Regions from separate parts of the Homo sapiens genome. Here region 1 is linked to region 2. The links come from fine-mapping of genetic effects on gene expression. A gene starts in region 2. The other region holds a variant in brackets. All regions are shown on one strand. Distances are between the middles of the regions.

Region 1 (5,355 bases), 26 kb after region 2:
CGCAAGGGGACCAGGGACGATGCCACCTGGAAGGATAAAGACGTAAGGACCAGGACATGCCTTGTGTCCAGGGCAGTGACTTGGCCAGCAGGATGGCGCTGGGCACGAGGACCTAAGCCTGGCCAGCCCCTCCTGGGGGAAAGCAAGCCTCAGGCAGGGTGTTGGAGCAGGCCTGGGTAGCCAGCAGCACCTCTGTTCCACAGGGGGCTTCCCAGGACCCCAGGCAGCTGCTGCGGCCAGGGAGGTCCTAGCCATGCTGCAGGTAGGAAGACAGGCTCGGGGGCGATGGGTCTACCCGGTGCAGACGCCGGGACACTGTGGTGTGGCAGCCTGAGCGACCCCAAAGCCCGGTCCCAGGATAGTGCGGCCTGCTTGGAGACCCTTGTCTGCCACCAAGCGTTCAGGCGCGGCTTTGGACCTCCCATCCCAGTGAGATGGCATCCAACACTCACTTCCTGGTCAGTGTAGACGGAGGTGGAGGGAGGGCTGCCCCCCTGAGGATTTGGGGCAGGTTCTGAACTGACCAGGCCAAGCTGACCTGGGCTGAGAACCAGGCTGGGTGTGAAGAGATGCTCTGGGCCAGTGGTACCCTCTCCTGCCTGGGACCTTCCCCAGTGCCCCCATCCTCATGGGTGGGCCCTGTCCATCCCCATTTCTTGAGAGCTCCAGACTGTCACACCTTGACAGCGGGGAGGGTAGGGCTTCCTGTCCCTCTGGAGTCTCTCCAGCCATAGGAGCACGCTGGCAGCCATGGGCTTCCAGCACCTGCAGGGCCACGGCGGGGCCCTCGGAGCTCCTCCCAGGGGGTGAGTTCTGCTGAGTTCCTCCTGCGCCTGGCCAGGAACGGGGTAGGGAATTCCCTGTGCTTGGGACTTCCAGGGTCCAGGGCAAGGCAGGGAACAGGAACTTGGGGGTTGGGTTGAATGCTGGGGAGCTGAGGGCTGAGTGCAGGGGGGCTGCTGGCTGAGTGCTGGGGGCTGCTGGCTGAGTGTTGAGGGCTGCTAGCTGGGGGGCTGATGGCCAAGCTTCGTGATTTCCTGGTCAGCCTGCTCAGGCTGCGGAGGGGAGTGGGAGGAAGAGAGCCAAACCCACGCCTGGCTGCTCTGGGGGTCTTGGGCAGCCTCTAGCCCAGGAGAGAAGACAAGGCAGTCACTCAAGGCGCTGAAAACAACGGCCTCCTTTACTGTTAAAATGCAGCCACAGGTGCTTAGCCGTGGGCATCTCAACCACCAGCCTCTGTGGGGGGCAGGTGGGCGTCCCTGTGGGCCTCTGGGCCCACGTCCAGCCTCTGTCCTCTGCCTTCCGTTCTTCGACAGTGTTCCCGGCATCCCTGGTCACTTGGTACTTGGCGTGGGCCTCCTGTGCTGCTCCAGCAGCTCCTCCAGGTGGTCGGCCCGCTTCACCGCAGCCTGCAGCACACCCACAGGGTCAGGCCTGCTCCCAGCCCCGAGGTCCAGCAGGGCTGGCCACAGGGACTCACCTCATGTTGTGTCCGGAGGCTGCTCACGGCCTCCTCCTTCCTCGCGAGGGCTGTCTTCACCCTGTGGGTAGTACATGGTAGGCTTCAGTGTGGCCCCCGCCCCATGTCCCCAGAGTGGCCTGCAGTGCACAGGGTGCACGGGGCAGCCGCCTGGTCAGCCTGGTCCCAGCCCTGCTGACCACGACTCCTGTGGCTGGCCCAGACAGCTGTCCAGGCAACCCACCTGCTGTGAGTCAGGACCCAACACAGGCCACTGGAGTATGACCCTGGCCACACCTGGGGAGGCCTGGTACCCAGATGGGGTGGGACACCTCGCCCACACCCACCTCTCAGCCTGTGGCAGCAGATGGCACAGGAAGGATGCAGGACCCCCGTGGAGGGAGCTCGCTGGGAACCTTACAGTGCCCCAGCTCTTTCAGCGCCTGTCCACCCAGCCCAGGGCCCCGGGAGCTGACTCCCTGGAGAACTCGCCAGGCCCAGACCCGACCCACTCGGGTGCCCCAACAGGGATGGCCGACACCCTAGACTAAGCACCAGGGAGGAAAACAGATCTAGGTCTCCTGGGCCCCAAACATGGAACCCACACCAGCCTCTGTCTACAGGGCCCTGTCTCTGCATCTCCTGGCCTTCCTCAGCCACAGCCTCCTGGGGCTTGGAGCTGCAGAGGTCCTGCCCGCTCCCCTGCCCCGCCTCCGTCTCCAGCCCTGCAGCCCCCGCCGCCCACCTCCGGTGCACCTCCTCCAGCTCCAGCTGCTGGCGGGCCTGCAGCGTGG[C/T]CAGCTCGGCCTTGGCCTGCCGCGTCTCCTCCTCAGAGGCTGCCAGCCGGTCCTCGAACTCCTGGCGGATCACCTGGGCCAGGTTGCTGCGCTCGCTAGAAAGCTGCTCGTTCACCTGGGTGGGCACAGAAGGCAGTGAGCCGGCTGCCAGCGACTGGCTGCGTGCATGCAGGAGGGGCCTGTGGGTGCCCACTGCCCACCTGACACCCGCCCACTCACCGCCTGCGCATCCTCCAGCGCCCGCTCCTTCTGCCGCACAAGGCCCTGCAGACGCAGATTCTCGCCCTCGGCCTCCCCAAGCTGGCCCTTCAGCTCCGAGCACCGCTCCTGAAGCTTCCGCTCCGACTGCTCCAGCTCGGAGAGCTCGGCCTCGTACTTGTCCCGTAAGCGCTTGATGCTGGAGGTGGGGGGAGGGCAGGGTCACTCCAGCCCAGTCACACACGGGTCCTTGCGCCTCAGCTCGTGGGCCTCCCCAGCTGGTGACCCAGCCATGGCGGGTCCTTACCGGCTCTCGGCAGCCTTCTCACTCTCCTCCTTGGCCAGCGCCATGTCGGCCTCCAGCCGGTGAATGACCAGCTCAATCTCCTTGTCCCGGCCTTTCCGGATTTCTTCCCTCAGCTCCTGTTCCCGGTTCAGCAGCCACGCCTCCTGGGGGGACATGCGCTGCCTGGGGGTTGCCACCCGGAGCCGGCCCGCGGGGCCAGGGCCAGCCTCAGGGGGTCCTGGGGGGCTCCAGGCTCTGAGCCACAGGGGAGCAAGGGGCCTTCCCCCTCTCCAGACCCCTGTCCAGGGGTGCGCTACGTCCTGTTGTCAGGACCCAGTGTGGGCATAGGCGTACCAGAGATCGTCATGATGCACAGCCCACGGTCCCCTCCCTCAGAGACCCACAGCCCATGACAACCTGAGGCCACCTTCTGCTACCAGATGGGATGGGAAAGTTGGACTTGCGTGTTGCTGAGGGCGGGGCCTGGGCCCCCAAGCCCAGGCATTCAGAGCCTAAGCTGGCAGCCTCCTGGAAGCCTCTGAAAACTCCCAGAGTTTCATCTGTCCAGCCCTGGGCCCCACAGGGCTACGTCGGGAGCATGCTACTGGGCCCAGAGGCATCCACTGCCAAAGCCTGCCTGGCTGCTCGGTGACATCCCAGCCCACCAGGGTGTGAAACCAGGTGACGGGCACGGTCAGCCTGGACTGTAGCCTCGCGGCGGGCATGGGTGGTGAGAATGTGTGTGGGACTGTCACCGTGGCAGAGTCCACCCCCCACAGAAGGCCCCAGAGGCTAAGGGGGGAGCCCCTGTTGTGCGTGTCCCTCTCGGTACATCTGAGTGTCAGTGGGCTGGTCGTGGGGCGCAGGGGTGTAGCAGCCCCTAGCGAGAGGGGCAACGCCTGTTCTCGGACCACAGAGGATGCGCTCCAGGCACCCTTGATCCTTCCAGAGCCCACGCAAAAGATGGGCTGAAAGCAACACACTCAGCGTCAGTTCAGACAACAACCCCAAGCAGCCAGATGTGACTCCCAGAAACGAGCCCCCAGGATGCCACAGCAGCAGCAAAACCCACCTGGGGCAGCCCCCAACTCCTGCCCACGCAGGGCAGCCCCCAACCCCTGCCCACCTGGGTGCCCAGGCCCCCACCTCCTTCCTGGTGCGGCCGGCCTCCCACGCCTGCCTCTCCAGCTCCAGCTGCTGCTTCAGGGTATTCAGCTCCATCTGGGGGGCGGACATAAGAGGCCAGTCAGTCCCACCCCGTGCAGCCCCCTGGCCAGGCCCAGCACAGCCCTCCGGTGGTAGACCTGGTGCCGGCGCTCCTGCTCCTCCCTGCCCTTCTCAAACTCAGCCCTCAGGGCTCGGGTCAGTGCAGAGCTGCTCTCCTCCAGCTGCTGCCTCAGCTCTTCCAGCTCCGCCCGCTGCCTGCGGCCAGGGAGGAGTCAGCAGGTGAGGGGTCATCGAGTAAGGAGTCAGGGATGGGAGAGGTCAGCGGGTGAGGGGGCGGGGGGGAGGGGTCAGCCAGCGAGGGGTCCCTGGGAGAGGGCGTGGTGCCCCCGGGCGGCACCTGGCTGCCTGCTGGCCCAGCCGCTCCCTCTCCTCAGCCACCTCACTGTACAGCCGCTGCCGTTGCTGCTGCAGCGCCCACTGCTCCTGCTCCAGGTGCTGCTGGAACCTGCGGGACGGTCAGGACTGGCTCTCGGGGGCCGGGACGGGCGGTCCCAGGACCCACCCACCGCAGGGGCACGGGCCGACCACAGGCCTGACTCACAGCTGGAGAGCAGCCCTCCGGGGCCCTGCCCCTCCCCCTCGGCAGTCAAGGCCCCTCAAAGCCACCGCCCGGGGGCAGGCAAGGCCACGAGGAACTTGCCCATCAGCCAAGCGCAGCAATTCCCTGAGCTCCAGGCCCTCGTGGCACTTTGGGAAGTGGCTGTGGAGCCGCGTCCAGGCCCCCTTTTCCCTCAGCCCGTGTGCCGGCCTCACCCTGTTCAGCATTGCCCCACGGGCATGGAGGGCGGGAGGCAGGTGCCTCGTGGGGCCTTATCCACCTCCCCTGCCTCCGGCCTGAGGGTGCCAGGTGCCTGGCTCCGTGACCTGAGCAAGCTCGCGCCAGGGCCTCGTCCTGACCCCACCTTCGAGGAGAGACTGGGGGACCAGCCAAGCTGCATCTGGGGAGGACCAGCCACGACAGGCAACAGGGTGGATAGGAGAGGGTGGCTTCCAGGCTGTCCTGGTGGCGCAGACAGTGCAGGAGGGGCTGCCACTGCCCCCTGTGGCCCGCAGATCCTGACCACCACTGGGCACGTCCCCAGCCCCCAGGGCTCAGGACGCAAGAGCAGCAGTCACCCCTCAGACCCCAGGCCAAGGGAGTGAATGAGAGAGACCGTCCCTGGGCCCCAAGGTCAGAGCTGGAGGGGCCTCGAGGCCGCCTATCCACGGGTTGCTGCTCTGGGGCCAGTTGTGAAAGAGTGGATGTCTGGTGGGGGTTCCCAGCCCTGACCCTGGGAAAACACCCGTGCACCCATGCAGAACCTGCAGACCTCGGCGGGCATGAACTGCAGACACAAGCCCGAGGACACTGGCCCGGCTGAGGCTGGGCCCCCAAGGGCCACTCCAGGGCC
Region 2 (5,355 bases):
CACACAGCCTTCCCATGGGACCCTCTCCAAGAACCCACCTCGGCCTGCACACCTGCAGCCTAAGGGTCTCGGTGGGAGACCTGAGACCTGAGAGGAAGTAGGGGGATGGGCCGAACTCATGGGCACAGCTTCCTCTGGGGCATCCTCTGAGACCCCGGGGGCGAGAGGAGGACAGGTAACTCCTCCCAGGGCAGGTGCTTGCTGCCTGAGCCTGAGTGGTCTGGGAGACTGAAGCAGCAGCTGCCTTCAAACAGACTCCACACCTGGTGCCCGGGCAGTGTCAGCTGTGGGGCACCTTCCAAGGGGAGGACTCCCGGGGACCACCCAGGCCCATGGCCTCCTGCTCAGCCCCTTGAGCCCCTGAGTCCAGCCCTGCCCCTGCCACTGAGGCCATGCCTGGCCCGGGGCTCGCTGCCTCCTCTGCCCTCTCCCCATCAATAGGCTCATCCTGAGGCCCAGCCTGCCCAGCCCTGTGCCAGGTGTCCGGTTCACATGAATGCTGATAGAGCGAGCACCGTGGCCAGGCACAGGCACTTCTCCCAGGAACCCCCCATGGCGCCTGGTTCAGGTCAGACACAGGGAGAGACCTTGGGCAGGAGACAGGGCGTGAGCTGAGGGACAGGGGAGAGGCGGGGGTTGGGGGGTGGCAAATCCAGGCTGCCACGTGTTCCGAGAACTTCCACAAACTCCAAGCCCTGCCCACTGGTCAACAGTGACACCTCTGCGTCAGGGATCAGCCATGGTAGGCACTGCCCAGGTACCCACCCTTGGCTCAGTGCACCACTGCTGTCCCTTCAGACCTGGCCATCACAGCCATTCCCACCTTACAGATGACAAAACAGGCATGGAGAGCCAGTCACAGAAGGGCCCCTCAGCAAACCAGAGGTGGCCCCAGGGCAAACCCCTGCTCCTAACTGTGCAGAGCATTTGACCCCCACCCTCAGGCTGAGCGCGCCTCTCCAGAAGCCGGAGCGAGGCGGTGTCCCCATGCCCACTTCCAGCCTAGGACAGCTCCAGGCCCCAGGGCTCAGGACGACTAGAAATCATGACGCCCTGAGGCCGCACCAGGGAAGGTGAAGGCTGGGGAGGGTGAGCAACAAGGCCAGCCCCCTCCCTTGGGGCACTCAGGTAGAAGGGGTGACCTCTGCTCGCTCAAGGCCATGCCACCCCCTTCCTGCCAGCCTGGACCCGGCCATCCTGCCCATGTGTCACCCCCATCACCCTGCTTTTCCTGGCCGCCATGCCCACACTAGTCTCCCCAGAGCAAGATTTCACATGTGCAGAACGGATCTCAGAGAGGCTGGGTGAGTAGTCCGAGGCCACACAGCACAGAGGCTGGAAGGCTGCAGCTGCCAAGAAATCCCCCAGCCACGCTCCCGAGTGTCAGGGAGATGGGGGAAGAGCTGGGCTCCAGAGGAGGCGGCTCTTCCTGGCACTCAAGCAGGCTCCTGGGCCGGGTGCCCCCTGCCCTGCCCGCATCTGCCTGGTGCGGAAGGTCAGGGGCCCAGGCAGCCCACAGTCTGTGCCCACAGCCTCCACTCTCAGGCCCTGCACTATCGGGCGTCTCTGCCCCCTGTACCACCACAACTGCCGTCACCTCTATGGAGACTGGCACCAGTTCCTGCGATGAACAAGGAGCCGGCCCGGCAGCGGGGCAGGGCCTGGCAACTGAGGTGAGACCCCCATGTCAGGTGCTAGCACTGCCCCAGATGCTGAGTGACACACAAGCCAACTGCCAGAGCCACAAGCGTGGGCCCCTCCCCTCTGGGTGCCCCCCCACAGACACAAGCAGCCTCAGAAGGAACCAGCTCGCTCCAATTCGGGGATGGCAAGGAGCCAGCCACATGCTGTAGGAAGCTTGGGCCCTGGGGGTCTCTGTCCCAGCACCACCACTCCAGCACAGACAGCCAAGTGCTCACCAAGCACTGAGCCCACCCGGGCCTGCCACAGGTACTGTCGGCCCATGTCATAGATGGGAAAACCGAGGTTCACAGAGGCAAGGCCAGGCAGAGGGACTGCAGCACAGGACAGCCAGGCTTGGAAGGCTGGGCTAAGTTTAGCGGGAGGGCAGGAGACCCCTCTCTCCTCCCTAACCCTCTCATGGGGGCTGGTGCAGAGCCTAGACCCAGCCCCTTAATCCGAAGGAGGGTCTCCTTCCTCACCAGCACCAGCACCTTGGGCAGCCCCTCCTGGTAGGTGGGCCCCAGAGCCCAGCAGGTGCCTGCAGCTCTGGCCCAGCATCTTGCAGAGGAGAGACGCCCCTTGCCTCCAACAACTTCTTTTCCTCTAAGTCATTAAACGGACACATTAGAATTATTCAGATCACAGCTGTTTACCCAGAGAAGGGCAGAGCCGGTGCTGCTCGAAGGCGGGGGAAAGGGCCTCTCATGGCCAAGGACAAGGCTGGGCCCCGAGGCAGGGTATGGGCCGAGGGTCCTCTCTGTTCTGGGGGCAGAAAGGACCAAGCACCGTGGGCCACGCCTGGCATGGAGATGTGATGAGGACCTGCCCCAAGCCTCCTCCACCCCCTGCCCTTGGGCCGGGGAGACATTACAGCTGTTGCCGTGGCTGTTGGGCTCTGAGCCTTCACCTGCCCACCCCACAGGGACTTCCGAGCCCCAGGGGTCACTACAGGAAGTCATTTCTGAGCAAGTGACACCCACAGCCCTAAGCCCAGCAGACAGACCTCCCACCAGCTCCCTTCCTCCAGGGAGCAAATGCCTTCAGACCGAGATCTGCCCCGGGGACCCCCGTGCCTCCCTGCCAGGCTGCGTGCACTGGGCCCTGCTCCAGGGAAGGAGACACAGGAGATCACGTCACATGCAAACAGGCTTTGTTTGGGCTGGCTCAGCCTGGTGCCAGAGCCCCAGTGACGTGTGGGTGGGACTTGGCCCTGGGGCCATGGATGGCACAGGGCAGGGGGATTATCTCCCACTCAGGCCAAGCAGGGGCCGGATCTGGAGAAGCAGAGGTTTTAGAAAGCCCACTGCTTCCTGGTGACAGATGGGGCTTCCAGCTGTCCCCAGCCCCCTCTGCCTATCCCAGCTGTCCACCACAGCCAGGAGGCCAGGCAGCCATGGGTAATCTCGCCCTGCCCGGTGCACTGGCCATACGGGGTAAGAGGCCTGGCCTCAGGTCCCCTGCAGCCAGCTTGACAGCGTCACCTCGGGCCCCCACTGTCAGGGGATCTGGGCACCCACCAAGGCCCCTCTCTTCTGAGCCTCTGCCCACTGGGCTCTGTAATGTGGACTGGCCCCTGCTCCCCCCACATCCCCCGCCGGCTGCTGGTGGCTGGGCAGGGCTCTGAGAATCGCTCCCAGCCTGGGAAGAAGCCTCCCACGCCAGGGCCCCGGACCCAGGAGAGGCCATGGAAAGCCTGAACCCCAGCTGGCTGACACCCCCCACACCCCCAAGGGCCCTTAGTCTGAGACCAACTCTCCTGGACACCAGGGGCCCACGCAGGCCCTCCGTGCCCCAGTTACCTGTGCCCTGGAGGCAGCCACGGAGTCACGACCACGCGGGGGACGCCAGCCCACAGGCGGAGGCCGGTTTGTGCTGGGGCCCAGGGCCTGCCCCTCCGAGATCTGGGGCCGCCAGGGGGTCCGGCTGCTTCTGCTGCTGGGCTCGGGGCGGGGAAAGGGTTAATTTCCATGCAAACCGGGAGCCGTGGGGCCCAGGGGCATCACGTCCGCAGCGGAGGGAGGCAGCGGCGCGCAGGCCGGGCCGCCAGGGACTCACCGGGGTCGAAGTGCGAGCTGAAGGCGAAGCTGGGGTTGAAGAAGGACGACGACATGGCCGGGCCAGCGGCCGGCGGGCATCCCGGGAGGGCGCTGCGCTCAGGACGCCCGCGGCCCCGGCCCGAGCCGCCGCATCACCCAGCGGCCGCCGCAGGTGCGGAGCGCGCCGGCCCCCGCGCCCCGCGCCCCCCGCCGCAGCCGCAGAGCCCGCACCGGTGGGGGCGGCGGCGACAGACGAGGCGCTCCGCCCGGCCCTGGCGCCGCGGGGCTCCGCTGGTGCAGTCCGAAAACGCGGGCGGGAGCGCGCGCGGAGCGGCGCGGGGGAGGGGGGGGCCCTCCGCGGCCGGGGTGGCATGGGGGGAGCACGGAGAGGGGGACACGGAGGGGGAGACAGAGGGGAGCACGGAGTGGGGGACACAGAAGGGGGCTTGGAGGGGGGACACGGAGGGGAGGCATGGAGGAGGGGGGACGGGGGGCCGTGCACGGAGCGGGGATGGCACGGAGTGGGGGGATGGTCCGGAGCGGGAAGCACGGCGGCCTGGGGCTGAGGGGGGCACGGAGGCTGGCGGGGGGGGGGGAAACGGAAGTCGTGAATGGTAAGTCGTGAGTGGGTACGGAGGGAACGCCGGGGTGGGGGAGGGGGTACTCCTAGGTGGAAAGGTTCAGGGAGACAGGTGGGGGAACCCGGGAGCACACCCAGGGCGGGTCTTGGTGCTCAGGGGCCCTCGCCTCACTTGCAGGTTTCGAGGCGGCTGGCAGCCGCCCCCCCACCCCATGCCCTTTGGGTGGCACCTGTGCTGGTGGAGTGGGGGTGGCTGGCTTTGCACACAGGCCTGCTCCTGTACCGTGCTGCGACAGCCATGAAGGAAGAACCTGGCTGAGTCTCCACCTGCCGTGGACTGTACCAGGTGCTTAGGGCAGCAGGTTGGCCTGGGCGCTGAGGGGCCATCCCTTCCCCTATGTTTCTCCCAGGATCCCCCATCCCCGCCCAAAGTGCCACCTTGCAGGGTTGGGGCGGGGCAGGGTCCCCCCAGCCTGCCCCCGTGGGAGTCGGGAGAGTTAAAGTTCAGTGGAAGCTGGTCCCAGTGGCTCATGCCTGTAATCCCAGCACTTTGGGAGGCCAGGGCAGGCGGGTGGCTTGTGCTCAGGGGTTCCAGACCAGCCTGGGCAACATAGCAAGACACTTTCTCTACAAAAATTAGAAAAATGAGCCAGGCATGGTGGCGCTCACCTGTAGTCTCAGCTACTTGGGAGGCTGAGGTGGGAGGATCACTTGAGCCTGGGAGTTAGAGGCCGCAGTGAGCCAAGATGGCACCACTGCACTCCAGCCCGGGTGACAACAAGATCTTGTCTCAAAAAAAGTGTCCTGGAGACTTGCAGTTGAGTTTGATGCACCCTCATCCACTCATTCATTCACTCACTCATTCATTCACTCACTCATTCATTCACTCACTCATTCTGGGACCAGATGGCTAAGCCCCTTGGCAAGGCCCAGTTGGGGTTGGGGGCTGTGGAGCAGGTGAGAGGCGCCCACTCCAACAGGGCTCTTAGGACTTTAGGGAGAGAAAGGAGCCTGTTCCCGGCAGAGGGACCTGCAGAGACCAGGACAGGATGCTTG

Alleles and levels. Alleles are on the strand shown, and positions count from the first base shown. SD is a standard deviation of normalised expression in the study named.
With allele T in place of C in region 1, the expression in prefrontal cortex of the gene that starts at base 3,308 in region 2 is lower (large effect, 0.86 SD a copy in GTEx).

What was found.
Region 1: its variant is fine-mapped to the expression of PVALEF in prefrontal cortex (GTEx, PIP 0.99). The same link has a PIP of 0.9 or more in cerebellum.

What each region holds. Positions count from the first base shown.
Region 1 is chr17:81,188,435-81,193,789 of GRCh38, forward strand. It overlaps CEP131 (centrosomal protein 131), which reads right to left. Exons shown (of 26, transcript NM_014984.4): 19 at 4,302-4,409; 20 at 4,042-4,159; 21 at 3,884-3,958; 22 at 2,759-2,901; 23 at 2,473-2,650; 24 at 2,205-2,368; 25 at 1,481-1,541; 26 at 1,162-1,409. The coding sequence ends at 1,335. Among named protein-coding and RNA genes, the nearest start is that of AATK, 25 kb to the left of the region's middle. RefSeq lists an enhancer at 4,485-5,202. The variant C/T (reference allele first, on the strand shown) is at 2,254.
Region 2 is chr17:81,162,200-81,167,554 of GRCh38, forward strand. It overlaps PVALEF (parvalbumin like EF-hand containing), which reads left to right and starts at 3,308. Exons shown (of 7, transcript NM_001354639.2): 1 at 3,308-3,548; 2 at 4,478-4,645. It overlaps AATK (apoptosis associated tyrosine kinase), which reads right to left and starts at 4,022. Exons shown (of 14, transcript NM_001080395.3): 1 at 3,739-4,022. The coding sequence starts at 3,793. RefSeq lists enhancers at 2,076-2,819, 2,820-3,563.